Linked DNA regions of Homo sapiens. The protein of the gene in region 1 interacts with the protein of each later gene in a biochemical or structural test. Each region holds a gene or a part of one and is shown in the gene's direction. Other genes may lie near its edges. The genes, in order: UBA1, UBE2K, UBE2W and UBE2D2.

What was found.
Region 2: of the proteins of UBA1 (region 1) and UBE2K, one has a biochemical effect on the other in vitro, tested with the Homo sapiens proteins (9 studies listed by BioGRID, with this or other methods).
Region 3: of the proteins of UBA1 (region 1) and UBE2W, one has a biochemical effect on the other in vitro, tested with the Homo sapiens proteins (5 studies listed by BioGRID, with this or other methods).
Region 4: of the proteins of UBA1 (region 1) and UBE2D2, one has a biochemical effect on the other in vitro, tested with the Homo sapiens proteins (18 studies listed by BioGRID, with this or other methods).

The regions. Positions count from the first base shown.
Region 1 is NC_000023.11:47,203,812-47,210,841, forward strand, and holds part of UBA1 (ubiquitin-like modifier-activating enzyme 1), read left to right. Parts: intron 1-456; exon of another isoform or gene 457-2,050; intron 2,051-2,136; coding exon 2,137-2,302; intron 2,303-2,436; coding exon 2,437-2,633; intron 2,634-5,811; coding exon 5,812-5,876; intron 5,877-6,116; coding exon 6,117-6,312; intron 6,313-7,030. UniProt on the Homo sapiens protein: Catalyzes the first step in ubiquitin conjugation to mark cellular proteins for degradation through the ubiquitin-proteasome system.
Region 2 is NC_000004.12:39,736,115-39,743,144, forward strand, and holds part of UBE2K (ubiquitin-conjugating enzyme E2 K), read left to right. Parts: intron 1-1,305; coding exon 1,306-1,399; intron 1,400-7,030. UniProt on the Homo sapiens protein: Accepts ubiquitin from the E1 complex and catalyzes its covalent attachment to other proteins. In vitro, in the presence or in the absence of BRCA1-BARD1 E3 ubiquitin-protein ligase complex, catalyzes the synthesis of 'Lys-48'-linked polyubiquitin chains.
Region 3 is NC_000008.11:73,785,689-73,791,862, reverse strand, and holds the end of UBE2W (ubiquitin-conjugating enzyme E2 W), read left to right. Parts: 3' UTR 1-5,644; downstream 5,645-6,174. UniProt on the Homo sapiens protein: Accepts ubiquitin from the E1 complex and catalyzes its covalent attachment to other proteins.
Region 4 is NC_000005.10:139,599,318-139,606,347, forward strand, and holds part of UBE2D2 (ubiquitin-conjugating enzyme E2 D2), read left to right. Parts: intron 1-1,054; coding exon 1,055-1,118; intron 1,119-7,030.

The DNA.
Region 1 (7,030 bases):
ATCTCTGGCCCACCACAACCTCTGCCTCCTGGGTTCAAGCGATTCTCCTGCCTCAGCCTCCTGAGTAGCTGGGACTACAGGCATGCGCCACCACGCCCGGCTGATTTTGCATTTTAAGTAGAGACAGGGTTTCTCCATGTTGGTCAGGCTGGTCTCGAATTCCCGACCTCAGGTGATCTGCCTGCTTCAGCCTCCCAAAGTGTTGGTATTACAGGCGTGAGCCACCACACCTCACCCCTCCTTTTTCTTGTTCCCATTCTTTCTGTCAGAGATCTTTCTGCCTCTGCCAGAAGCCCTTCTTTTTGGCCTTTCTTTCCCTCAGCTTCTGTTTTTTTTTTTTTTTTTTTTTTTTTTTTGCCTTAACCTCTTTTTAGTGCTGGTTGGGACAGTGTGTCTGGGGTCCTCAAAACTACTCTCAAGCTCAATTCACCTAGAGTACTTACAGGACTCAGCATATAGTCGTGCTTGTGGCTACAATTTATTACAGCAAAAGGATACAGACCAAAATCAGCAAAGGGAAAAGGCTGGTGCAAGTTTCTAGGAGTCTTCTCCCAGCGGGAGTTAAACAAGGCGGCCTTTATTTCCCCAGTAGCAACAGTAACTACAGAAATAACAGCAACAAGGTGTAACAAGACATGAAATGTTGCCAACCAGGGAAGCTTGTTAGACTCAGCACCACCTCTTTTACTTGGGGCTGGTCATGTAGGCGCCCCCTTCCTGGCACATAACAAAATTTCCAGACTCCCAGAAGGAAAGGTGTTCAGCGTAAACTGTATTGTTTGCATGAACGGTTTAGGCACAGTGAACCACTGATACCAGGTAGGGAGCGGTGGGAACCTTCCTGAATTCCAAGTTCCCAGACACCAGCCAAGGAGCCGACCTTGGAAGCAGGCCTTTCCAAGGGTTGTAGTTTCAGTCTCCTAGGCTTACACTTCTCTGCACATATGGAAACTGGGTTGGTTATGCAGGGTTCTCTGAGAAGCTTTCTGTAAGGAGCAGTGTCGTTTTTGCTTACCCAGGATTTATTCCCCCTTTCATTTATTTCATTTATTCACCAGATAGTTTTAGTACTGTTTTAGGTATTGGGGATATACCAAGGAATAAAACAAGATTCCTGGAGGGAGAGGGGAACGGACAGCAAACAATAGACACAATACGATCGTGAGGTATATAGTTAATGTTGGTGATGAGTGCTCCTCAAAGGAAACAACTAAAACCAGACAAGGGAAGTCGGGGTGTCAGGGAGAATGGTTTGTAGTATTGATGACAATGGTTAAGGAAGGCCTGAGTTCTGCAAAGACCTCAAGGATATGAGGGACTAGAGTGCCCTCTGCTGTGGAAGAGCCTGCGCAAAGATCCTGAGGTGGGAGGGGTCAGGGAGCCAACTCATTTTACGGTAAGTGGAGGTGGGATCCAGGGGAGGATTCTGAGCAGAGGAGGGACGTGGCCCAATTTGGGCTTTGAAAGGATCCTGCTTGTCTGTGTGCCAGCATCCTGGTGGTGGTTGGGGGAGTCTGCATCAATCCTGGGTGCTGTTACCTGAAAAAATAGCAGGTGTTAGACGAAAGAACAGATGTCTGGCCCATTGTCTCCAGTCTGTTCCTGTCCACAGCTTCCCTTTATGCTGAGCCCCTGCCACATGCATCATCATCCTGGCCATGTGGCATTGTCACAGACCGTCTCTCCTGCTAGCCTCCTAACTCAGGGCCTGGGTCTTCCCCAGCATTAAGTAAATCAGTCTCAGGCAGACAGCCCTTTATAGGTGTTTGGGCCAGGTGCGGTGGCTCACGCCTGTAATCCCAGCTCTTTGTGGGGCCGAGGTCTTTGAGCTCAGGAGTTCAAGACCAGCCTGGGCAGCATGACAAAACCCTGTCTCTACCAAAAATACAAAAATTAGCCACGCATGGTGGCACACACCTGTGGTCCCAGCTACTCGGGAGGCTGAGGTGGGAGGATCGCTGGAGCCTGGGAAGTTGAGGCTGCAGTGAGCCGTGATCATGCCACTGCATTCCAGCCTGTGTGATGGAGAGAGACCCTGTCTCAAAAAAAATAAAGATGTTTGTTGGGTGAATGCACAAATAAGTGAGCTTTGTTCCCCCATCCCCACCCTGGAACTGCACTTTCTTAACCCTTTAGAAGTTAAAGTCTGACACGGCTGCTGCAGCTGTGCGCCAAATGAATCCACATATCCGGGTGACAAGCCACCAGAACCGTGTGGGTCCTGACACGGAGCGCATCTATGATGACGATTTTTTCCAAAACCTAGATGGCGTGGCCAATGCCCTGGACAACGTGGATGCCCGTGAGTTTGGAGGCGGGTGAGGTGGTCACGGGCAAAGTTGTGTGTGTTTCGGTGTGTATATACCAAGAGGGGTGTCCGTCTTTCTGTCCTCTCCTGATGTTTCTTTCCTAGCTCTCGCTTTGTGCTCCCCACAGGCATGTACATGGACCGCCGCTGTGTCTACTACCGGAAGCCACTGCTGGAGTCAGGCACACTGGGCACCAAAGGCAATGTGCAGGTGGTGATCCCCTTCCTGACAGAGTCGTACAGTTCCAGCCAGGACCCACCTGAGAAGTCCATCCCCATCTGTACCCTGAAGAACTTCCCTAATGCCATCGAGCACACCCTGCAGGTGATAAGCTGTGGGAGAAGGGAAAGAGGCCAGGCATCTGGCCAGGCTGCTGCCTCTCCGCCCCCAGGCCCTTGCCTTGCCTTCAGATGTTGCATGCCTAAGTGTAAGATGTGCCTTTTCTCCAAACCTCCCTCCCTCACTTCCCACCAGGCAGCCTAGGTTTCTAGAATGACTCATTCTTTTTTCACTTTTATTTTGATTTTTTTTTCAACACATAGACAAATATTAAGAATATTATGATGAATACTCAAATACCATTCCTCACCTAAATTTAACAATTCTTAATGTTTTGCCACATTTTCTTCTTAGATTTATGTAGATTTTTCTTCTTTGTGCTTAAATGTGTCACAGACATCACAGCCCTTTACTCCCTACTATTTCAGTGCCTCTGCCAAGTGAGGATATGTTGCTGTAGAACAGGGTTTCTTAGCTTCAGCACTACTGACATTTGGGGCTGGTTATTTATTTGTCATGGGAGAGGGGATGCCCTGTGCACTGTAGGATGTTTCTCAGCATTCCTGACTTCTGCCCACTAGATGCCAATAGCACTCTCCCTCCATCATGACATCTCAAAATGTCTCCAGACATTGCCAGATGTCCCCAGGGGTGCCACATCACTCCCAGTTGAGAACTACTTCTGTCTAACAGAAACATCATTTTCATGCTCAGCAAAATTAACAATCATTCTTACCATCTCTTCTAGTTATTTATTTGTCTCTAATGGTCCATATTCAGGTTTTCCCCAGCTGTTACTCAAAATGAGTTTAACAGCTGGTTTGTCAGGATGATTCTGTGTGTATGGTGCATTTATCTACAGAACAGTGCATATATTATCTAGCTCGGGGTGTCCAATCATTTGGCTTCCCTGGGCCACATTGGAAGAAGAATTGTCTCGGGCCACACATAAAATATACTAATACTAACGATAGCTGATGAGCTGAAAAAATAAAAGAAAAAAAGATCCGTGCATAAATCTCATAATGTCTTAAGAAAATTTACAAATTTGTGTTGGGCAGCATTCAAAGTCATCCTGGGCTGCATATGGGCCACAGGTTAGACAAGCTTGATCTAGCTGAAGTTTTACAAAGTGAACACACAGGTGACCACCACCTGGGCCAAGAAACAGAACCTAGGGATTACCATTGTGCTGTCAGAATAATTCTTAGTGCAGTGTTTGAGGCCAAACCATTTAGAATAGTAGGAGTATGAGGGTGGGAACAAAATAGGGAAGGGAAAAAAAAAACAGTTCCATCTGTCACTTTCTCCCTTCTGACACTGCAGTTCCAGAGTGGGTATGTTTGTATTTGTGCACCAACCACAGTCTTGCTAGGTCATGTGTAACCTTGAACTTAACCTCTCTGTGCCGCAGATTCCTGTTCTGTAAAATGGGAATGACAGCATCTACCTCACAGGACTATTGTGAACCACTTGGCATTTACTGTGTGCCTGGCACTGTTTTAACCAAGCTTTAAATATATATGTATTTGCTCATTTCTTCCTAGCAACCCCATGAAGGTAGGTATCACTGTTGTAACACCTGTTTTAGAGACAAGGCACAGAGGTAAAGATGTTATCCTGTGTGCCTGAAGTCACAAAACTAGGTAATACGTGGCATAGCTGGAATCTGAACCTGAATTTCTAACATCTGTACACTCCAAACCACCTCGCTAATGACTGCGAACTGTCCTAGGAATTCTCAGAGGCCAGAAGTTCTGTCTTGTTTGCTATTTTATTTTTTGAGACAGGTCTCATTCTGCCATTCAGGCTGAAGTGTATTGGCACAATCATAGCTCACTGCAACCTTCCAACTCCTGGGAAGTGTCTGTACGTGTGTGTGTGTGTGTGTGTAAGTGTCTGTGTGTACGTGTAAGTGTGTGTACGTGTGTGTGTGTGTGTGTGCGCACGCACGCGTGCCCGTTACGTTGACCAGGCTGGTTGTAAACTCCTGGGCTCAAGTGATCCACCTGCCTCAGCCTCCAAAAGTGCTGGGATTACATGTGTAAGCCTCTGTGTCCGGCCTCTGTCTTGTTTTCTGCCAAGTCCTCAGGGCCTGGATAGGGATCATTGTTGGTTTGGTCTGAGTTTTTTGTGTTTTAAAAAACTGTGGTAAGATATACCTAATTGAAGTTTTTATTTTTTATGGAGGCATAACATATCTAGAATAAGGTACACAGATTTTTTTTTTTTTTTTTTTGAGGTGGAGTTTTGCTCATGTTGCCCAGGTTGGAGTGCAGTGGCGCAGTCTCGGCTCACTGCAGCCTCCGCCTCCCAGGTTCAAGCGATTCTCCTGCCTCAGCCTTCCAAAGTGCTGGGAATACAGGCGTGAGCCACCTCGCCTGGCACTCAGATCTTAATACATTTTTAGGCTGGGCATGGCGGCTGACACCTATAATCTCAGCACTCAGGAGGCCAAGGAGTGAGGTTTGTTTGAGCCCAGGAGTTCAAGACCAGCCTAGGCAACATAGCAAGACCCTGTCTCTACAACAAATCTTAAAAATTAGCCGGGTGTGGTGGCATGTGCCTGCTGTCCCAGCTATTCGGGAGGCTGAGGTGGGAGGATCGTTTCAACCTGGGAGGTCAAGGCTGCTGTGAGCCGTGATTGCATCGCTGCACTCCAGCTCGGGTGACAGTGTGAGACTTTGTCTCAAACAACAAAACAAAACAGTTTTCCACATACACAGCACTATTGTAACCACTGCCCAAATCAACTTCATTGATTTTTCTTTTTTTGAGACAGTCTTCCTCTGTCACCCAGGCTGGAGTGCAATGGCATGATCTCGGCTCACTGCAACCTCCGCCTCCCGGGTTCAAGAGATTTCCTGCCTCAGCCTCCTGAGTAGCTGGGATTACAGGCATCTGCCACCACGCCCAGCTACTTTTTGTATTTTTAGTAGAGATGGGGTTTCACCATGTTGGTCAGGCTGGTCTCGAACCCTTGACCTCAGGTGATCCATCTGCCTTAGCCTCCCAAAGTGCTGGGATTACAGGTGTGAGCTACTGTGCCTGGCCTGGTTTTTCAATTGAGGTGGGGGAATGGGGAAGGCTAGAGGGCTTCCCCACTTCCAGAGTAGCTGTGCGCCTTGTACTTGCTTTATTCACTGATGGTCCTTCTAATAATGCCTGCGGAAACCCATTTTGTCAACTGTGGCCACATGTAATCTGTTTGCTCTGTCTGCAGTGGGCTCGGGATGAGTTTGAAGGCCTCTTCAAGCAGCCAGCAGAAAATGTCAACCAGTACCTCACGTGAGTAACTCGAGTGCCCTCTCGCCCTGTCCCTGTCCACCAGCCAAGGCATCCCGGCTGCTTTCCTCATGACAGTAACACTTGGCACCAGGCACACTTTTCACATGAATGAGTGGCTGTTGGGGCCTCATGTTGTTTGGGGTCGGGACTAGTTTTCCATGGAGAAAGTAAGATTGCTCTGGAGCCCACTCTTGAGGCTGACATGTAATCCTATCCTCTGTCCTCTTCGATTCCTGATAGAGACCCCAAGTTTGTGGAGCGAACACTGCGGCTGGCAGGCACTCAGCCCTTGGAGGTGCTGGAGGCTGTGCAGCGCAGCCTGGTGCTGCAGCGACCACAGACCTGGGCTGACTGCGTGACCTGGGCCTGCCACCACTGGCACACCCAGTACTCGAACAACATCCGGCAGCTGCTGCACAACTTCCCTCCTGACCAGGTAATGCCCAGTTGTTGGGTCCATTTGGCAGAATGTGTTTCCCTGAAATGGGAGCCTGCAGTGTGGGTCCTCCCACTGTGGAGTCCAGCTGTGGCAGGTGCCCTGAGGCATGGGGATCTGAGAAGAGTGATTGATCCTGACCTGCTTTTTCCTCACCCTAGTTCCTTTGAGCAAAGAGGCTTGGTTGCTATTGCCCTTGACTGTGGTGTGGGCTGCGTCATACCTGATTCCCAGTCAGGGCTGTAGGGATTATGGGGGAGAAATTCTGGAGTTAAGAGCACAGGAATCAATATGGGTTCAAATCCAAACTCTACTTGAACTTAGGCAAATCACGTAACTTCTCTCTGTACCTCAGTTTCCTCGTCTGTGAAGTAGAAATAATAGTGATCTATCTCATGGGGGGTTTGGGGAGGATTAACTGGTATTTATTAAAATGAAGTTAGTACAATGCCTGGTAATCCATGAGAGTTTGTTAAATGATGGGCTGTTTAGCACAAAATGGCTACCCAGTGATTGGTAATTGTTCTCTCAGCCAGATCTCTGGTTCAACCTGTGGGACCCTACAGTTGAGGTATTTTGTGATTGGCTCCAGTCCGCATCGAGTGCCCAACCCAAGATAGTGAATTGGGGGCACATCTGGGGCCTAGGTGAAGCGTGAAGATTGTCAGAGAGGCCTTCACTCTCAGGTCCTGTTCTCAAAAATCTCTCCATCCCTTAG
Region 2 (7,030 bases), on another chromosome or scaffold:
AAGAGTAGATATGTTGTGTCAATCAGGTAACAATATGGAATTCTAACCAAAAAAAATGAAGATATAGGCCGGGCACGGTGCCTCACGTCTATAATCCCAGCACTTTGGGAGGCCAAGGCGGGCGTATCGCGAGGTCAGGAGTTCGAGACAAGCCTGGCCAACGTGGCGAAACCCCGTCTTGACTAAAAATAACAAAAATTAGCTGAGCATGGTAGTGGGTGCCTGTAATCCCAGCTACTCAGGAGGCTGAAGCAGGAGAGTCACTTGAACCCAGGAGGTGGAGGTTGCAGTGAGCCGAGATCGTGCCATCGCACTCCAGCCTGGGCAGCAAGAGCAAGACTCCGTCTCAAAAAAAGGAAGATGTAACCTGTTCTTTAGGGATTTTGGTTTAAAAAATCGAGAGGATTTACTGTATTTTTAACATAGGTTTGAGAATATAAGTGGAGAGCCCATTTGCTGGCAGGCACTTACGAATGTTAATGTGAGTCCCACTGGATGGTTTTCTGAATCATTTAAGGTTATCATGGCTCTGAGAATGGACTGTCATAAGGTTAAGAGACTCAGTAATGCTATAGATAGGAAAGTACTTGGAGTAGTTTAAAGTGCAAAATAAGTCAATGTAGATAAATTTAAAGTAGAAATCTGGTTTTTTGAAGTAGGTAGTTGCCGTTTTAATAAACTAAGCAGAAAAACAAATTGAAGAAGGCCTTTTCTTTTGAGGCATTTAGTCCTCTGGAATTTTTCATGGAAAGGAGAATCTGTTAGGTAGCTAGAGCTTTCACCATTCTGGTGGATAGTGTACTATTTCAGTCAGTTAAACTAAACATTTAAAGTTGTTATGGTTAGTTCAAGTGAGAGTTTATGGCCTAAATGGCTTTTAATGACCCTGAATTTTCTGTTTAAGCAGAACCCATGTATCGTGGGGGTATAGTGCAGAATATAATATCTTAGTGTTCATCTGTGGATGATTAGATTTATCGCTTTGGGCCTGATATACATGGAATTGGCAAACATAAAATAGCTTTTATACTATTTTTCCCTAATAACATTCCTAGAAAGTCAAGAAGCCATTGTATTGTTGTTCATAGTGGTGTTATTTCGTTTAAAACAATGAAGTTAGAATTTATTAGTTTGTTTTAAATATTCTTAAAACTGGATAATTAAGTCCTAGAAAAGCCGAGACTTATTTTACTAGAGCAGATAATCAAGCTTATGAAAGAGGGGGTTTCAAGATTTTTTATAGGTAATACTTTAGGCGTTTTTCTTGCTGACATAACTAACATTTATTTTCTGTTTATTTTTAAGACGAGCAAAAATCAAATTAAAGTAGATCTTGTAGATGAGAATTTTACAGAATTAAGAGGAGAAATAGCAGGACCTCCAGACACACCATATGAAGGCAAGTACTTTTTTCTGTATCAAAATATTGTGCGTATTAGAACTTGTCTGAAACATTTAATCAGAATAATCTTAAACATCTATAAATTATATGGAGGGTAACTTCATTTGGTTTAGATAAACAGCAATTTAAAAAATACTAAATTTAGATACTGAATATAGACTGGTATTTCTTACTGAATTTTAGCTAATTTTTTTCTTTCCATAAAACAGTTTTAGCAGAGCTTTGTTACAGGTATTATAGGTTAGAATTTAATAGAATAAAAGATCTGGCATGGTAAACCTCTAAATCATATGGACTGTAGACACTCAGTTACCCTTCATATGGTATCTAAAACAGACCTTGCCTTAAATATCTCATTGGTAAAATGTTGCTTTTGTTTTTAAAGTTCTTCTTTCTGTCATTCAGCATTTCATTCACTCATGTCTTCATACAGGCTGTAGTCCAAATGTTTATTTTCTTTATTCAGGAAAGCTTTTAGTGATTATTTCAAGCCATAGAAAGGAGGTGGCTTTGCTGAACTTGGTGTTCACAAATTAAGTCTGTAGCTACTTTAGACCATGGAATCGGGTGGTAAGATACAGAAATAAACCTTATAGCATTTTACTTTCTTATTAGGTGAGTCTTCATTAATTAATATTACTGTAAATTTAGATTATATAGCATATAACCAAGGCTCTTGCATTAATAACTATTCAAATATTTGTTTATTAGAAAACATATAACAATATATGGTAACCCTAATTATACAGTCTTTACATGTATTTTCTCATTTAATCCTTTCAGCAAATCTTACTAGGTAAATACAACGATTGCTGTTTCATAGATGAAGAAACAAGTTAAGAGAAGTAACTTGTTTAAGGTCAACCATCTAAGTAGCACAACTGATAGCCTTTGTCTTCAAAGCCTGTGCTTTTAATCACTTTATGTAAATCAGAATTGACTTAATATTGGAAGTGGTGGTGATGTCTGTTTTGTTTTATCTATTTTTTTATATGCAAAGTTTTACTGTTACCCAAGCTGGAGAGCAGTGGCATGGTCATAGCTCATTATAAATTTGAATTCCTAGGCTCAGGTAATCCTCCAGCTTCCTCAGTAGCTAGTACTACAGGTGCATGCCACCATATCCAGTTAAATACTTTGTGTGTGTTTTTTGTTGTTCATTTTTTGATTGTTTGTTTTTTGAGACTGAGTCTCTCTGTCACCCAGCCTGGAGTGCGGTGGTGAAATCTTGGCTCACTGCATCCTCCATCTCCCAGAATCAAGTGATTCTCCTGCCTTAGCCTCCTGAGTAGCTGGGATTACAGGCGCACCACCATGCCGGCTAATTTTTGTATTTTTAGTAGAGACAGGGTTTCACAATAACGGCCAGGCTGGTCTTGAACTTCTGACCTTAGGTGATCCGCCTGTCTTGGCCTCCCAAAGTGTTAGGATTACAGGCGTGAGCCACCAATCCCGGCCACCAGCTAAATACTTTCGAGTGGTTCTATAATTCTGTAATGAACAGTTACCCAAAACACTTTTTTTTTTTTGAGATGGAGTCTCGCTCTGTTGCCCAGCCTGGAGTGCAGTGGCGCGATCTCGGCTCACTGCAAGCTTCGCCTCCTGGATTCACGCCATTCTCCTGCCTCAGCCTTCCGAGCAGCTGGGACTACGGGCACCCGCCACCATGCCCGGCTAATTTTTTTTGTATTTTTTTAGTAGAGACGGTGTTTCACCGTGTTAGCCAGAATGGTCTCGATCTCCTGACCTCGTGATCTGCCAGCCTCGGCCTCCCAAAGTGCTGGGGTTACAGGAGTGAGCCACCGTGCCCGGCTACCCAAAACACTTTTTAAAAATCTAATATTCTTGAATATTTTCTTGTTTTTAATCCAGATTTTTTAAGACCCTAGAATGTCTTTAGCATATTATACCAATTCTGTTTATTCATTTTTTTTTTTTTTTTTTTTGGGAGACAGAGTCTTGCTCTGTCTCTCACGCTGGAGTGCAGTGGTACGATCTTGGCTCACTGCAACCTCCGCCTCCCGGGTTCAAGCAATTCTCCTGCCTCAGCCTCCCGAGTAGCTGGTACTACAGGCGCCCGCCACCATGCCCGGCTAATTTTTGTATTTTTAGTAGAGGCGGGGTTTCACCATATTGGCCAGGCTTGTCTTGAACTCCTGACCTTGTGATCTGCCCACCTCAGCCTCCCAAAGTGCTGAGATTACAGGCGTGAGCCACCGCACCGCACCCAGCCCATTTTTTTCTTTCTTTATTGGAGAGATGGCATCTTGCCAAGTTACCGAGGCTGGTCTCAAACCCCTGGCCTAAAACAATCCTCTTGCCTTGGTGTCCCAAAGTCTTGGGATTCTAGGCATGAGCCATTGTGCCCAACCTTGTACCAATTCTTAAGTGATAAAATTTTATTTTTTGTTTTATAGTTCATACGAGCCATTTCTAGATATTTAATTTTTTATGCTGTTTATCGAGTGCTTCCTATCTGCTTGGCTTGGTCTGGCAGTTTTCATGGATGCTGTTTCATTTAGTCCTTTTTGCAATCATTAAATGTAGAGGAGACCTTTAGTTATCTTTAAAAAATCAGATGCTTGTCCTAATAGCAGATGTTTTTATATAATAATATACTAGCTTCTTCTTGAAGTCAGACCTTATAGTTATTCTTGAATTTTTTTTTAGGTTGTTTTGAAGTATTTTTGGAAGATAGTAGGGCAGTGACATTATTCTAGAGGTCTGTCAGCAAAGTTTTAAATTTTTTCATTGATTTTTATAAACAAGGCACTTCCTGAGCTAAATTAGATAGAAGCAATATTTAATAGGTAGATTAATTTTTTTAATTGGATAATGTATACTTATATACATTAAGATATATTAAGATACACTAATTAGCCGGGCGAGGTGGTGGGCGCCTGTGGTCCCAGCTACTCGGGAGGCTGAGGCAGGAGAATGGCGTGAACCCCGGGAGGCGGAGCCTTCAGTGAGCCCAGATCGCGCTGCTGCACTCCAGCCTGGGCGACAGCGAGACTCTGTCCCAAAAAGAAAAAAAAAAAGATACATTAAGATATATTCTTATGGCCGAGTGCGGTGGCTCACACCTGTAATCCCAGCACTTTGGGAGGCTGAGGCGGGCAGATCACGAGGTCAGGAGATCGAGACCGTCCTGGCTAACACGATGAAACCCCGTCTCTACTAAAAATACAAAAAAATTAGCCAGGCGTGATGGTGGGCGCCTGTAGTCCCAGCTACTTGGGAGGCTGAGGCAGGAGAATGGTGTGAACCCGGGAGGCGGAGCTTGCAGTGAGCCGAGATTGTGCCATTGCACTCCAGCCTGGGCAACAGAGCAAGACTCCGTCTCAAAAAAAAAAAAAAAAAAAAGATATATTCTTTATTGGTTAGAAACAAGTTTGGTCATTTTTTTTCTTTTCTTTTTCCCGATACCGAGAATGGGACCAAAAGTTTGGTCATTTAAAAGTGCTTATATCTGCCTGGGCGGGGTGGCTGATGCCTGTAATCCCAGCACTTTGGGAGGCTGAAGCAGGTGGATCACGAGGTCAGGAGTTCAAGACCAGCCTGACCAACGTGGTGAAACTCCATCTCTACTAAAAATACAAAAATTAGCTGGGTGTGGTGGCGTGCGCCTATAATCCCAGCTACTCAGGAGGCTGAGGCAGGAGAATCCCTTGAATCCATGAGACGGAGGTTGCAGTGAGCTGAGATCGCACCACTGCACTCCAGCCTGGGCGACAGAGGGAGACTGCATCTCAAAAAAAAAAAGTGCTTATTTCTGCTGCTGCTGCTGCTAAATGAATATTTTGATAAGATTAGATTTAATATGCTTTTTATATATTTGAGGTAGAGTAACTTGAATTCTGTTATTTTATATAAAACTATTGAGAGAAGTTCATTTTGTTAAGGAAAACACCATTCAAGGACATAAACTTTAATGCTTTTTCTTTTAAATGTGACGATAGGTTAAATGTTTATTGCAAGGATGTTGCAGTTTTTTGAGTTTTTAAAAATCTAAACTTAAATGCTAAAGCAAAAGTTTACATGTGGAATGTTAAGCAATTTATAACCATTATTAAGTAATGAGGCAGCTGTTTTTGTAGTATTTAAAGAATCAGATTGTGAAGTAGAGTACTCACGGGAAAATGCCATATTGTGGATGTTACTTAACTCAATTTTCTTCACTTCTTTTGCCTTAATAATTCAATGACAAAGGAACAGTTTAGTTCTTGAGCTTTTCTTCCTAAAATTTCTTTTAGGTTTATGGAATCATTGTTGACAGCTTAAAAATTCTCATTCCTTCCTCATCTCCTCTTTGGGTTAAGTTAAATTTAAAGATTGTTAATTTTTAATATTAAAAGCTATTCTTCAAGAAGTTAATGTTTTAAAGTAAAAACTATTATAATATGAATAATATAGTTATCATAAGGATTCCTTAGTTGTATTACCCTGATCAAATAATGCTATGATTAATGCTAAGTGGTCATATATTGAAAGTTGTCAGAGCGTGTAACATAAGGGATAGAAATAAGATTTTAGAGACTCTCGAGTCCAGCATTATTTATATAATATCTGTGGGCCCTCACACTGCTCCTAAGAGATTATTTTGGCCATTAACAAAGAACTTTGTATGATGGGTTATAGAGATGGTTTAATCTGGAGTTTAATCAGAAAAAAAAAATTCTTAGGAAGGAAAAAGAAAAGCCTATGTAGTGCTGAAGCCAAATTTATTATAACTATATTTGAAGCTGGCATTTCTAATTCTGGGTATAGACAGTTATTGTCACAAAATTTCTTCAGGTACCCTTCTCTTACCTGTCAGTTTTTTTTTTCTTTCCACTACTTTTCTTTAAATTTCATTATTGTTATATGTTCTGTGATTCAGGCATTTAGTTCAACTCATGCATGAATCACTATGGGATTCTATTAAAAAGAACTAGCCACGAGGCATAACGGCTCATGCCTGTAATCCCATTACTTTGGGAGGCTGAGGCGGGTAGATTATTTGAGGTCAGGAGTTTGAGACCAGCTTAGCCAGCATGCTGAGACCCTGTCTCTACTTAAAAAAAAATTAAAAAATTAGCCAGGCATGGTGGCGCGCACCTGTAGTCCCAGCTACCCAGGAGGCTGAGGTAGGAGAATTGCTGGAACTGGGAGGTGAAGGTTGCAGTCAGCCGAGATCGCACCATTGCACTCCAGTCTGGGCAACAGAGTGAGAATCCGCCTCAAATAAAAAGTAGCCAGAAGAGAGGCCAGGCGCAATGGCTTATGCCTGTAATCCCAGCACTTTGGGAGGCTGAGGCAGGCGGATCACCTGAGGCCAGAAGTTCAAGCCCAGCCTGACCAACATGGTGAAACCTCATCTCTACTAAAAATACAAAAATTAGCTGGGCATTGTGGTGGGCACCTGTAAACCCAGTTACTCAGGAGACTGAGGCACAAGATTTGCTGGAACCTGAAAGGTGGAGGTTGCAGTGAGCCAAGATTGTGCCTCTGCACTCCAGCCTGGGCAACAGAACGACCCTGTCTCAGGAAAAAAAAAAAAAGAGAAGGATTCGAAACAAAAAGGGCTTGAAGAAAATAGTACCACTTTTATTTTTTCCTCAGATTCATAGTCATCCATCCATTCAT
Region 3 (6,174 bases), on another chromosome or scaffold:
ATAAATACCATAAAGTAAACTAAAATGACACAGAGGAAAGTAGAGGAAAATGAAATAATTTCGGTACATCTTATGGTTTAAAGAGTAGAAAATAAGATGAAATATCCTAAAATATAGGAGCACAGACATTTAAAATTCATAATCAGGCTAACAACACTCTCTTGAATTTAGGAATCATTGAAAACTCCTTGCACTTAGATTTAATTTATATGTTAGTTACATTATTAAAAGTCATAAGGCATTTATCTGAGTCATTGCTCTACAGAGAGCAATTAATGGCTTGTAATAATAAAAAGAATATTTCTCTGTAATGCATTGTTGAAAGACAACCAGAATATCAAGAAAATGTATATAGGAATATGCTACTTGCCTCCTCCCTGCATTTCCTCGTGGGGCACTATTTGCGACATAGGCCTACAGAATTAGACTTTCATACTTAGAAGATAAGGTACACTCTTCTTCTTTTATTTATTTATTTATTTATTTTTAGGCCATTCTTCTGGTTTGCCAAATTCTATTAAGACAGTGATACATTTGCTTCCTTATTTATGCATGCTTAGATCATGAACATGATGCCCTTCTTTTTTTTTTTTTTCTTTGGTCAAGTAGGGATTAATGCCATAGGTTTAGAGAGAAGGATTGTTTTCAGTTTTTAAGAGAATTTTTTAAAAATACATTTTATGGTTCTCTTAAGGAATTAATATTCACTTCTGAAGGACTTACTTGTAATATATAATTTATCATTTTAGCCAGCAGGGAAATAAATCATTTTTAATCCCCAGAAGAAAGTGCTGGAAATAGCTTCTATATAGTCAGCAGTTCACCTGGAGAAAGATCTTAATTCCTTGTTGTTTTGACTAGGAATATCAATATTTGGTATAAAATAACTAGAATAGTTTATTACCTTTTCCCTCATGAAATTTTAAATATATGCAAATATATATATCATTAGATTCCTGTGGTGGATAATAATTTCTTCAGATTCTAAAACAGGTGTCTAGTGACTGCTTAATTGTTTCCAAGTTGCATCAAAGATGAATTGGTAAATAATGGAAATGAGTAGTGATATGAAAATGGTTATGTAACTACATATTACTTGTTTCTGGTAATCAAGTCTTATTTTTTAAAAGCCTATTGTTTTTCAGAATTGAGATATTTAAAACTTGTTATAACTTCTTCCTAAAAATAGAAGAGAAGAGGAGGTACTGTGTGTTACAAAAATTTTTTTAAATAAAGAATTCAGTGTCACTAGTTCTAAGCCTTTATGGTTACTGCTGCTTATATTTCTTGATCTCACTTTCATTAATTTTTTTGTACATATCTTAGCTGAATGCTTAAAATTTACAATTATTTGTAATTGTGTATGTAAATTGCTTTTCAAAAAGAACTGAAGCTTAACCATATTCTTCTTTTCTGAGGATTCATTATCAGAATCAGCTACTATACTGTTCTGTGTTATAGTAATGCCGTTACTGCCTGTGCATGATTGAGGTCTGTGAAGAAGGTGTCTTTTAATCTGCACCAACTGGCCCCAATCCTCTTTGTAGTCCTTTTTAAATTGTTTTAAATCTGTCCTTTATTTTTCTTCCTATTTTTCTGCCTCTTCCCACTGATGTCCAATGTGTCAGTCTTCCGCAGTTTCCTTTTCTCACTTCTAATTTATTCTCTCTTTTTTTTTTCTGAGGTTAGGGATTCTACAGAAGGACGATTATTAAAATTATGCCATGAATTTTTGAAAAATTTAAAATGCTCTCCTACAAATAAAATACATGGAGTTTCTGATACTAATTTCAGTTTGTCAGTAGATGGCTAAATTTGTTGAATAATTGACTACTTGGTAAATGAGCTGTTAGCTGTAATTAGTTCTTTAGTACTAATATTAAGGAAATTTTGTTATTTTCGGATGAGGACTCTCCCAAAGCCAAATTATTGTCCAAGCAAATTATTTATTTTTTCCATTTAAATTTCTAAGTCATTTTGAGATGTGGAATGATTATTTTTATTATTTATTTATTTATTTATTTTTGAGACGGAGTCTTGCTCTGTCACCCGGGCTTTAGTGCAGTGCACGATCTTGGCTCATTTCAATCTCCACCTCCTGGGTCTAAGCGATTCTCCTGCCTCAGCCTCTTGAGTAGCTGGGATTACAGGCATGTGCTGCCACACCTGACTAATTTTTAGTAGAGACAAGGTTTCACCGTGTTGGCCAGGCTGGTGTTGAACTCCTGACTTCAAGTGATCTGCCCACCTCAGCCTCCCAAAGTGCTGCGATTACAGGCATGACCCACCACACCCAGCCTGGAATCATTTTTTAAAAATAATTTGTGGGAGACTTGCTTTCTCAACATAAATTGTGTGTGGGTTGTTTTTTGTTTTTTGAGACGGTCTTCCTCTGTTGCCCAGGCTGGAGTGTGCAGTGGAACAGTCATTGCAGCCTTGACCACCTTGGCTCAAGCAATCCTCCTGCCTCCCGGGTAGCTGAGTCTACAGGTGTGTGCCACCATGCCTGGATGGATAGAATTTTTTTTTTTTTTTTTTTTTTTTTTTTTTTTTTTAAAGACACGAGGTCTCACCATGTTGCCCAGGCTGATCTTGAATTCCTGGGCTCAAGCATTCCTCCTGCCTCAGCCTCCCAAAATGCTGGGATTACAGGTGCAAGCCACCATGCCTCGTCTGTTTGCCGATTTAAGACAGGTTTATGTACATCATTATCATTAGAGGCACATAGAATCTAGACATGTACTTGAAACTTAGCTCTCTATCCTGAAAGTTGAAGTTAGGGTTCTTTGATCCTGGTGAGATGTTAATTGTAATTTTAATTTTCATATGTTAATATTGTGACTTGTATTTTGTGATGAGTCTCTAGAATGATTAAATGACTATTTTTTTATGAAAAATTTTTTGTTAATAAAATATCTGAGGGTATTTTGAGTATGTGGAAGGAATGCCTGAATAGAAGCTGATCTATCTTAACATACCTCAAGAACTCCAGTTTTAATATGGTGAGTGAGGAGTTGACTGGGAAAAGGAGAGATCCAATTCTTGTTCTAGTCCTTGGCACATACACTCTCTGGGTTTTGAGAAAAGGATGGTCCTACAACGATTCTAAGTTGTTTTCTCATTGGTCCTACAACAATTCTAAGTTGTTTTCTCAAAGGCAAAAGCATGATTTCAAAATGACATCACTTGTCAGATTTTCTGGTGTATGGAAAGATTTAATAATCCTGCCTCTTTTGAAGCCTGAAACTTACAATTTAAAGCCTGAAATCTACCATAAGGAACTTGGTAAATTGTGTCAGATACCATGAAAATGCATCTTTTCATAGTTAACCACAGATTGTTTATGTAAAGGCAAATTGGTGGTCAGGTTCAAGGTAAAATGGATTATTGGGTTGATTAGTAGCCAAAAACTAAATGCATGTTCAGGTCAAAATGAATTTGTTTGTTTTAGTTGGTGCCATTTTCCTTTTATTATTCAGAACTACAGAGTGTGCATTTTATTAATAGGAATGAAAGCTCATGCTTGAGGATTTGAATAGGGTGGATGTATATATTTTATAAACTCAAGTTGCAAAATATGTAAAGTCACTACTTTTTAAATAGAATATAAATGTTAAAACAGACAAATCTATGTTATATATTTTTTAATACATGTATCAGACTTGTTAGTTGAATGCAGATTACTTTGCTTTATGGAATTTCATAACTTTTAATAATAAAGCAGTTGTTATTGGATTTTTTCTGTAGACTTGAATACTAAATGGGATAGATACCAGACCTCTTTTTGGTTTATGACGTAAAAGTATTTGTACAGTAGTTTCTCTTCACAAAAGACTGAATTTTAAAGGATTATAGAAACAGGAACATGTCCATTTCCAAAATGAGTGCAACAGAATGAAGATAGTCACTTAAACCATCTATTTAACACATCACCTTTATGTAATATGTAGCTAGTTTTAGTGTTTTAATAAGTCCCAACTAAAGACTGAGTGTTTTCAGTGAAGATGGAAATGGAGACCCAGGCACTTGCTTAGAGTTATCGTGAGTCCGATGTTCCTGAACTTCAAGTTGTACAATTAAGGGCATACTCTAAGAACTTCTGGATGCTTTCTGGAGTATACAAACAGATCAACTAATGACTTAAATGAGTGACTCTTGAAGCTGCAAGAAGAGGAAAGAAATAACCACAAGAAGGGGCTATCTCAGCATCTGTTATTCCTGACAGGAGGAATTAAATATGCTCTGCTGGTAATTCTAAGCTTTTCTGCAGGGGATCTGCTTGCCCCAGGAGCACCTTAGTCCTCATTGAGGCAGCCATTCTGCCATAAAAACGATCATGTCTCAAGCTGTTCCTGCCGTCCTACACAACTATGTTAGTAGATGGTTAGATAAATATATGAACCATCTTTTGTACTTTGATGATGCCCTTTTCCTTTATTATAATCCTTAATTTCTACTTTCCATAGTAGGATTTGACTTTTCTCCATTAGTTTAAGCTACCCTGGATAAGTGACTCTGTTTATGTCCTCCCTATATTTCTTACTCATTTTCACACTAACATAACACGTAACAAAATTAAACATAAGCTAAATTGAAGAAGCAAGTGAGACAGCTAAGAGTTTTGTGTACTTGGACAACAAAGCTCAAAGCCACTGTGGTTATCTGTCCTGTTGGGAGCCCCTTTCAACCATTTTTTTAGTTGCCTGTAAGATTTATTTTTAATGTTTGCCTGCATAATGCAAAATACATAAGTGGGAATCCCTACGCCCTTTACAGTTAAGTGGATTATGGAAATAATAAGGAAAGTTTATCAACTAAGGTAGGAAATATCTTCTCATGTCTGTATCTGGCCTTCAGGGACTTAATGTGGGTGAATATATGTCATTAGACAAGATCCTAATATAGATGGCTGTATCCTGCAGATAGCCAATTCAACATTAAAATTTTATGTTTCCATACCTCAATGAAAACATATTTCTTTTATCCTGTTATAATTTAATGACATTCCCATCCAACTTAATCAAGCAATGATACTCAGTAGTCCTCTCCTTGCATTTTTCAAGTCCTGTTGAGTGTAACTTTAAAATGTCTCTGAGATTTCTACCTTCTCTCCAGTCTCCTTACCATTAGGGCCTTTCACTACCTGGCCTTGGTGTCCCTAGGCTGCTCTTCAGCTGTCCACAAACCTTGTTTCATAAGCAGTAGCAATGCAAGCTTCCACTGCCGTCTGCTAATGTTCTTCCCTCCTAGAATGTTCATGATCTGCGTTTCTACCTGAAAGGTCTAGTTCAAAGGTAGCTGAAAGGTTATCATCCTTGTCCTTTCTTCTCTCCCTACCAGTCATCTATCCTGAACTTTTTAACAGTAGGGACAGTGTTGCAATTGTGTTTGTGTCCCCAGCACGTAGCACACAGTACCTAGTATACAGTACCTGTAGCACATAGGCATTTAATAAGTGTGTATTGAATTAACTTGGTTATGCTTGTATTTTTATCCTAGCTTTCTCAAAGAAACTTAGGTGCTAGCTATTTTGAAACATATATCCAGAACCACCACCTGAGTAAAATGTATAACAGGACCCTGCTCTTTCTATCCCAGAGAGTTTGAGAAAACTACTTTTAAATAAATCATTAATCATTCTTCATTGGTTTTGGCTTTTTTTATAGGTGTTTCTCATATCTTTATCTCTGAGGCAAATTGCTTGTCACAAATTAATTGTTTTAAACTAAATACATCTCAGGAACCATAAAATCATAAAGGTAAACCTGACATAGAGTTTAAAAACCAGCATTAAGCAGATAATTATTGTGTGCCTTTCATATGCCAAGAAGGATGGCAGATGAGGTATATATCTTCAAAGGGCATATGTAATAAGGGAGATAATAAATAGAAAAGCATATCATATAAAATGTGACAAGCCTTAAGAGGTGCAGATAGTTTCTGATTATCAAAGAAACATGTCTGTGAAAAGTACTGTCATGCATAAAGATGGGCCAGGCACAGTGGCTTACGCCTGTAATCCCAGTACTTTGGGCAGGTGGATCACGTCAGGAGCTTGAGACCAGCCTGGCCAACATGGTGAAACCCCGTATCTACTAAAAATAAAATAACGGCGTGGTGGTGGGCGCCTGTAATCCCGGCTACTTGGGAGGCTGAGGCAGGAGAATAGCTTGA
Region 4 (7,030 bases), on another chromosome or scaffold:
GTCCAGTATAATTTTGGAACATTTATGACTTTAGGAGCTTGTCCCAAGTGTAACCTAATAGTTTTGAGGTACAAAAATTGGCCTTAAATTTTTTTTTTGAAAAATAATAAATGAAATGTTTACATTAAAACAATTTTGGCCAGGCGCGGTGGCTCACGCCTGTAATCCCAGCACTTTGGGAGGCCAAGGTGGGCGGATCACCAGGTCAGGAGATTGAGATCATCCTGGCTAACACGGTGAAACCCTGTCTCTACTAAAAATACAAAAAGTTAGCCGGGCGTTTGGGTCGGGCACCTGTAGTCCCAGCTACTCGGGAGGCTGAGGCAGGAGAATGGCGTGAACCCTGGAGGCGGAGCTTGCAGTCAGCTGAGATTGCGCCACTGCACTCCAGCCTGGGCGACAGAGCAAGACTCCGTCTCAAAAAACAAACAACAAACAAACAAAAAAAACAGTATTTTTGGCTCTTTAATACATAATACATGTTTTTTGTTTGTTTGTTTTTTTGAAATGGAGTCTCGCTCTATCACCCAGGCTGGAGTGCAGTGGTGCAATCTTGGCTTACTGCAACCTCCGCCTCCCTGGTTCAAGGGATTCTCCTGCCTCAGCCTCCTGAGTAGCTGGTATGACAGGCATGTATCACCATGCCCAGCTAATTTTTTCTATCTTCAGTAGAGACAGGCTTGTTGGCCAGGCTGGTCTCGAACTCCTGACCTCAAGTGATCTGCCCGCCTCAGCCTCCCAAAGTGCTGGGATTACAGGTGTGAGCCATCACGCCCGGCCCATAATACATGACACATGTTTTACCTTCCTGATTGTATTTATTTGCTAAGCTCTGAACAAAGCAAAAATGACCCACTTTAAAAAAATACACATTGCCTTGAAGAATCCAAAATACCTTAAAGATTCACCAATCTACTCATCTCTTACTCTGAAGGAATGCTCTTAAGAGAGTTTCACCAGCAGGACAGAGAATATTGGTAACAATATAAACTTTAGTAATGGATAAAAGGTACATTTATGTTGAATATATTTCTTTTCTTTCTTTTTTCTGTAGGAATTGAATGATCTGGCACGGGACCCTCCAGCACAGTGTTCAGCAGGTCCTGTTGGAGATGATAGTAAGTATTTAAAAGGAATAATGGAGTAATAGCATAACAGTGGTTATTTTGTGTGAAGAAACAATTATGGTATAGGGAAGAGGCAGTGTTTAACCCTTAGTGGCCCATGAAGGGAGCAACTCTATGTTCATCCCATTATCATCTGTGTTGTTCATTACATTTTGAATCTTCTGCCAGGTATTGGCTATGTAGTTGTTCTAGTCCTCTCCTACCTTACCTTCATCCCTTCTGGGTATTTTCCTGGAGTGAAATATTTAAGCTTTTACCTACAACTAGCTATTATTCTTGAGTAAGATAATACTAAGGATGATAGTATGTGTGTCTGTGTCTGACTTTCTACTGACTCATACTTGCGAAATCAGGTCTTTATTTATTTTTTTCTTGAGACAGGGTCTCGCTCTGTCAAGCCCGGGCTGGAGTGCAGTGGCGTGATCTCAGCTCACTGCAGCCTCTGCTTCCTGGGTTCAAGTGATTCTCGTGCCTCAGCCTCTCGAGTATCTGGGATTACAGGTGCATGCCACCACGCCTGATTAATTTTTGTATTTTTAGTAGATTCGTGGTTTCGCCATGTTGGCCAGGCTGGTCTCAAACTCCTGGCCTCAGGTGATCCGCCCGCTTTGGCCTCCCAAAGTGCTGGGATTATAGGCATGAACCACCACACCTGGCCAAAAGCAGGTCTTTATTTTTAATGTCCAATTTATCTGCTTAATTTTGTCTAAAAAGATGATCTTAATGCATACATTAGATGATAATTTCCTCTTTGTTCCACTTCATTTCAACATAATTTTTTCCCATATAGTGTCTTTTAACTTTTTTTAAAGAGGGGATATTTGAATGAGACTATGCTATGTGATGTAAAACTAATTCACAAAAAACTGTAACATTTGGTTGGGTGTGATGGCTCATGTCCCTAATCCCAGCACTTTAGGAGACCGAGGCAGGTGAATCAATTGAGCCCAGGAGTTCAAGACCAGCTTGGTCAACATGGTGAAGCCCTGTCTCTACAAAAAACACACAAAAAAATTAGCCGGGTATGTTGGTGCATGCTGGTAGTCCGAGCTACTTGGAAGGCTAAGGTGGGAGGTTTGCTTTAGCCTGAGCCTGGGTAGCAGAGTTTACAGTGAGCCAGGACCATGCCACTGCACTCCAGCTTGGGCGACAGAGTGAGACGCTGTCTCAAAAAATAAAAACAGGACGGGGCGTCATGGCTCATGCCTCTAATCCCAGCACTTTGAAAGGCCGAGGCGGGCGGATCACGAGGTCAGAGTTTGAGACCATCCTGGCCAAGATGGTGAAACCCCGCCTCTACTAAAAATAGAAAAAAATTTAGCCAGGCATGGTGACAGGCGCCTGTAATCCCACCTACTTGGGAGGTTGAGGCAGACAACTGCTTGAATCCAGGAGGCAGAGGTTGCAGTGAGCTGAGATTGTGCCACTGCACTCCAGCCTGCGTGACAGAGTGAGACTTACTCTCAAAAAAAAAAAAAAGAAAAAAAAATTTGTAACATTTAACAAATATTTTAAAGTATGCATACTTACAAACACTTGTGTAAATATGTAGATTCAGACCAAAATGAGTACATGGTTAAATTAGCTTATGTTTAATATTTTTTTGTTTGTTTGTTTTGTTTTTTAAGATGGAGTCTCACTCTGTTGCCCGTGCTGGAGTGCAGTGGCGTGACCTCGGCTCACTGCAAGCTCCGCCTCCTGGGTTCATGCCATTCTCCTGCCTCAGCCTTCCAAGTAGCTTGGATTACAGGCACCTGCCACCACACCTGGCTAGTTTTTGTATTTTTAGTAGAGACGGGGTTTCGCCATGTTGGCGAGGCTGGTCTTGAATTCCTGACCTTAGGTGATCCACCTGCCTTGGCCTCCCAAAGTTCTGGAATTACAGGCGTGAGCTACTGCGCCTGGCCTCAAATTGTTTTTTCCTGATTTTTCTTAATAATGTTGTGTCTGGGCCCAGCCCAGTGGCTCACACCTGTAATCTCAGTGCTTTGGGAGGCTGAGGCAGGCAGATCACTTGAGCCCAGGAGTGCGAGACCAGCCTGGGCAACATGGTGAAACCCTCTCTCTACAAAAAAATACAAAAATTAGCCTGGCCTGGTGGTGCATGCCTGTAGCCCCAGCTACTCAGGAGTTTAAGGTGGGAGGATCGCTTGAGTCCAGGCAGTTGAGGCTGTAGTGAGCCAAGGTTGCACAACTGCACTCCAGCCTGGGCAACGGGAGCGAGACTCTCTCAAAACAAAAACAACAACAACAACAACAAAAAACGGAAAAAAAGAATGTGTCTGGTCTGCTAAATCCTGAAGAATCAAAGCAAGGCCCTTTCACAAGGATTACTTTACAAATAGATAAATATTATAAATTATGAGTCTAAGTACATGTCATGAAAAAACTCATTTACATTATTATATTCTGACTTACCTAGCGTGAGTAACTATAGTATTTGGTACCAAACAAGGCAGGCTAAGTACTTAAACTATACAAAATAATTTAGTAAGTGCTGTTACACACGTTGTCTCATTTAAGCCTTACAACAACTCATTTAGGTGAGTGGAGTAGAAATTTTAAATTGTTTTAGAAAAAAGTCCCATGAGAATCTCATGGAGATTCTCCATGTGAACTCACTCTCAGGTTTTCTGATTCTAGTTTGTCCTTCCACTGTATCATATGGGCCACATACATCAGTGTACTCTTTCTATTCAGTTGGAAAAGTGCTTTTAGGTAAATTCCTCCAAGTTAAGAATGGCTGAAAATCTTTAATTAAAAGTGGTTGGAGTCAGGGGATTTGATTTCAATTTTGAAGTTTTCTTTAGCATGCTAAAGTAATTTGTCTTTGCTTTGCTTCTGCCATAGTTAGCACTATACATTTCTTTCTCAGGTTGAAAAATTGTTCCCTTTGGAGAGTTAAATAAAACTCTCCCACAGCCGAGTGCGATGGTTCACGTCTGTAATCCTAGCACTTTGGGAGGCCAGGAGTTCAAGACCAGCCTGGCCAACATGGTGAAACCCTGTCTCTACTAAAAATACAAAAATTAGCTGGGCGCGGTGGCGCCTGCCTATAATCCCAGCTACCTAGGAGGCTGAGGCAGGAGAATCGTTGGAACTGGGAGGCGGAGGTTGTGGTGAGCCGAGATCCCGCCACTACACTCCAGCCTGGGTGACAGAGTGAGACTCTGTCTCCGAAAAAAAAAAAAAAAAAAAAAAAGGCTGGGTGTGGTGTCTCACGTCTGTACGCCTGTAATGCCAGCACTTTGGGAGGCCGAGGCAGGTGGATTACCTGAGGCCAGGAATTCAATCAAGACCAGTCTGGCCTTGAACTCTGGTGAAACCCCGTCTACTAAAAATAAAAATACAAGAAATTAGCCAGGTGTGGTGGTGGGAGCTGTAATCCCATCTATTTGGGAGGCTGAGGCAGGAGAATCGCTTGAACCCGGGAGGCAGAGGCTGCAGTGAGCCGAGATCACGCCATTGCACTCCAGCCTGGGCAACAAGACTGAAACTCCGTCTCAAAAAAACAAACAAACTCTCCCAAAGCTAATCAGTAAGAGAAAAAAATAGATATTATTAGACTTCATCAAAATTAAATATATACAGGCTGCAAATGATGCCATCACGAAAGTGATAAAACATATAGAATGGAAGAAATTGTTGCAAGTCATATATCTCATAAGGGACATATATCCAGTATATTTTTAAAACTTTTTTTTTTTTTTTTTGAGACGGAATCTCGCTTTTGTCACCCAGGCTGGAGTGCAGTGGTGCGGTCTTGGCTCACTATAACCTTCGCCTCGTGGGTTCAAGCAGTTCTCCTGCCTCAGCCTCCCGAGTAGCTGATTATAGGCACGTGCCCCGCCGCCCAGCTAATTTTCGTATTTTTGGTAGAGATGGGTTTCACCATGTTGGCCAGGCTGGTCTTGAACTCCTGACCTCAAGTGATCCGCCCACCTCTACCTCCCAAAGCGCTGGAATTACAGGCATGAGCCACCCCACCCAGCTGTTTAAAAACTCCTATAACTCAGTATAAAAATAAATAACCAATTAAAAAATAGTCAAAGGATCCGAGTAGACATTTCTCCAGATAAGATGGCTAGTAAGCACACGAAAAGATGCTCAACATCATTTGTCATTAGGGAAATACAAATCAAAACTACAGTGAAGAAGAGCCAGGCACAGTGGCTCATGCCTGTAATCCCAGCTACTGGGGAGACTGAGACTGGAGGATCACTTGAGGCCAGGAGTTTTATGCCAGCCTGGGCAACAAAGCAAGACCCCATCTTTAAAACTAAAAATTAGCTGGGAGTGGTGGCTCATGGCTGTAGTCCCACCTACTCACAAGGCTGAGGCAGGAGGAACACCTGAGCCCAGAAGTTTGAGGCTGCAGTGAGCTATGATTTGGCCACTATACTCTAGCTTGGATGACAGGTTGAGACCCAGTCTCTAAAAAAAAAAAAAAAACAAGTATTGATCAGATCTTTCTGATGAACCCCACATAAGAGTACATCAAGTATGATTGGATAGCTAAATGTCCTTTTGTCATTTTATTTTTGTTATAAGGAGTCAGAATTTAATCTTAGAAGAAGGAAGAGAGAAACTGTTGGCCTTTTGAAACTTTTGAGCTCCTTTTGACTATCCTGGTACCCAAATCCCTCAGTACCACATGTTATTGATATTTAGTGTAAAAATAAAGTGGAGACTTGTGCTTTATTTTAAAACATCCAGATTTTAATGTTGATATTTAGTATAAAAATAAAGTAGAGATCTGTGCTTTATTTTAAAACATCCAGATTTTAATGTACTAGTAAATTTTTTTTCACTTTCCTGCAAAGATCTGGTAAGCAGGAAGAAATGTACATCCTGAAAGAAGTAAGCAGCCGGGCCCGGTGGCTCACGCCTGTAATCCCAACACTTTGGGAGGCCGAGGCGGGCGGATCACGAGGTCAGGAGATTGAGACCATCCTGGCTAACATGGTGAAACCCCGTCTCTACTAAAAATACAAAAAATTAGCCGGGCTTGGTGGCAGGTGCCTGTAGTCCCAGCTATTCAGGAGGCTGAGGCAGGAGAATGGCGTGAACCCGGGAGGTGGAGCTTGCAGTGAGCCAAGATCACGCCACTGCACTCCAGCCTGTGTGACAGAGCAAGACTCTGTCTCAAAAAAAAAAAAAAAAAAAAAAAGAAAAGAAAGAAACAAATAAGCTGAAGATTTAATGGCCATATATCTGTTTCCTTCTCTCTTCCCTCCCTTCCTTTCCCCCTCCTCCTCCCCTCCCTCTCTCCCTCCCTTCTCCCTCGTCTTCCTCTCCTCTGGTCTTCTTTAAAGGCAGGGGCTCACTCTGTTGCCCAGGCTAGAGTGCAGTGGCGCGATTGCAGCTCACTGAAGCCTCAAACTCCTGGGCTCAAGGGATCCTCCCACCTCAGCCTCCTGAGTAGCTGGGACTATGGGTACATGCCCCTACACCCCTGGCTAATTTAAAAAAAAAAATTGTAGCAATAGGGTCTCACCATGTTTCCTACGCTGGTCTTGAAATCCTGGGCTCAAGTGATCCTCCTGCCTCTGCCTCCCAAAGCCCTGTGATTGCAGCTGCGAGCTACCGCACCCAGCTTTCTTTTCTTTTGAACAGTTGGTAAATGTGACTCTCTTGAGATCTGTGCATTCAAGTGTAGGTCTCTGGGGATTCAGTCTCATACTATCAAATATTCTCACTGTCCCCTGCTGTTTTGTTTGTTTGTTTGTTTTTTTGAGATGGAGTCTCACTCTGTTGCCCGGGCTGGAGTGCAGTGGCGCAATCTCGGCTCACTGAAACCTCTGCGTCCCAGGTTCAAGCAATTCTCCTGTCTCCGCCTCCCAAGTAGCTGGGATTACAGGCATGCACCACCACGACCGACTAATTTTTTGTATTTTTAGTAG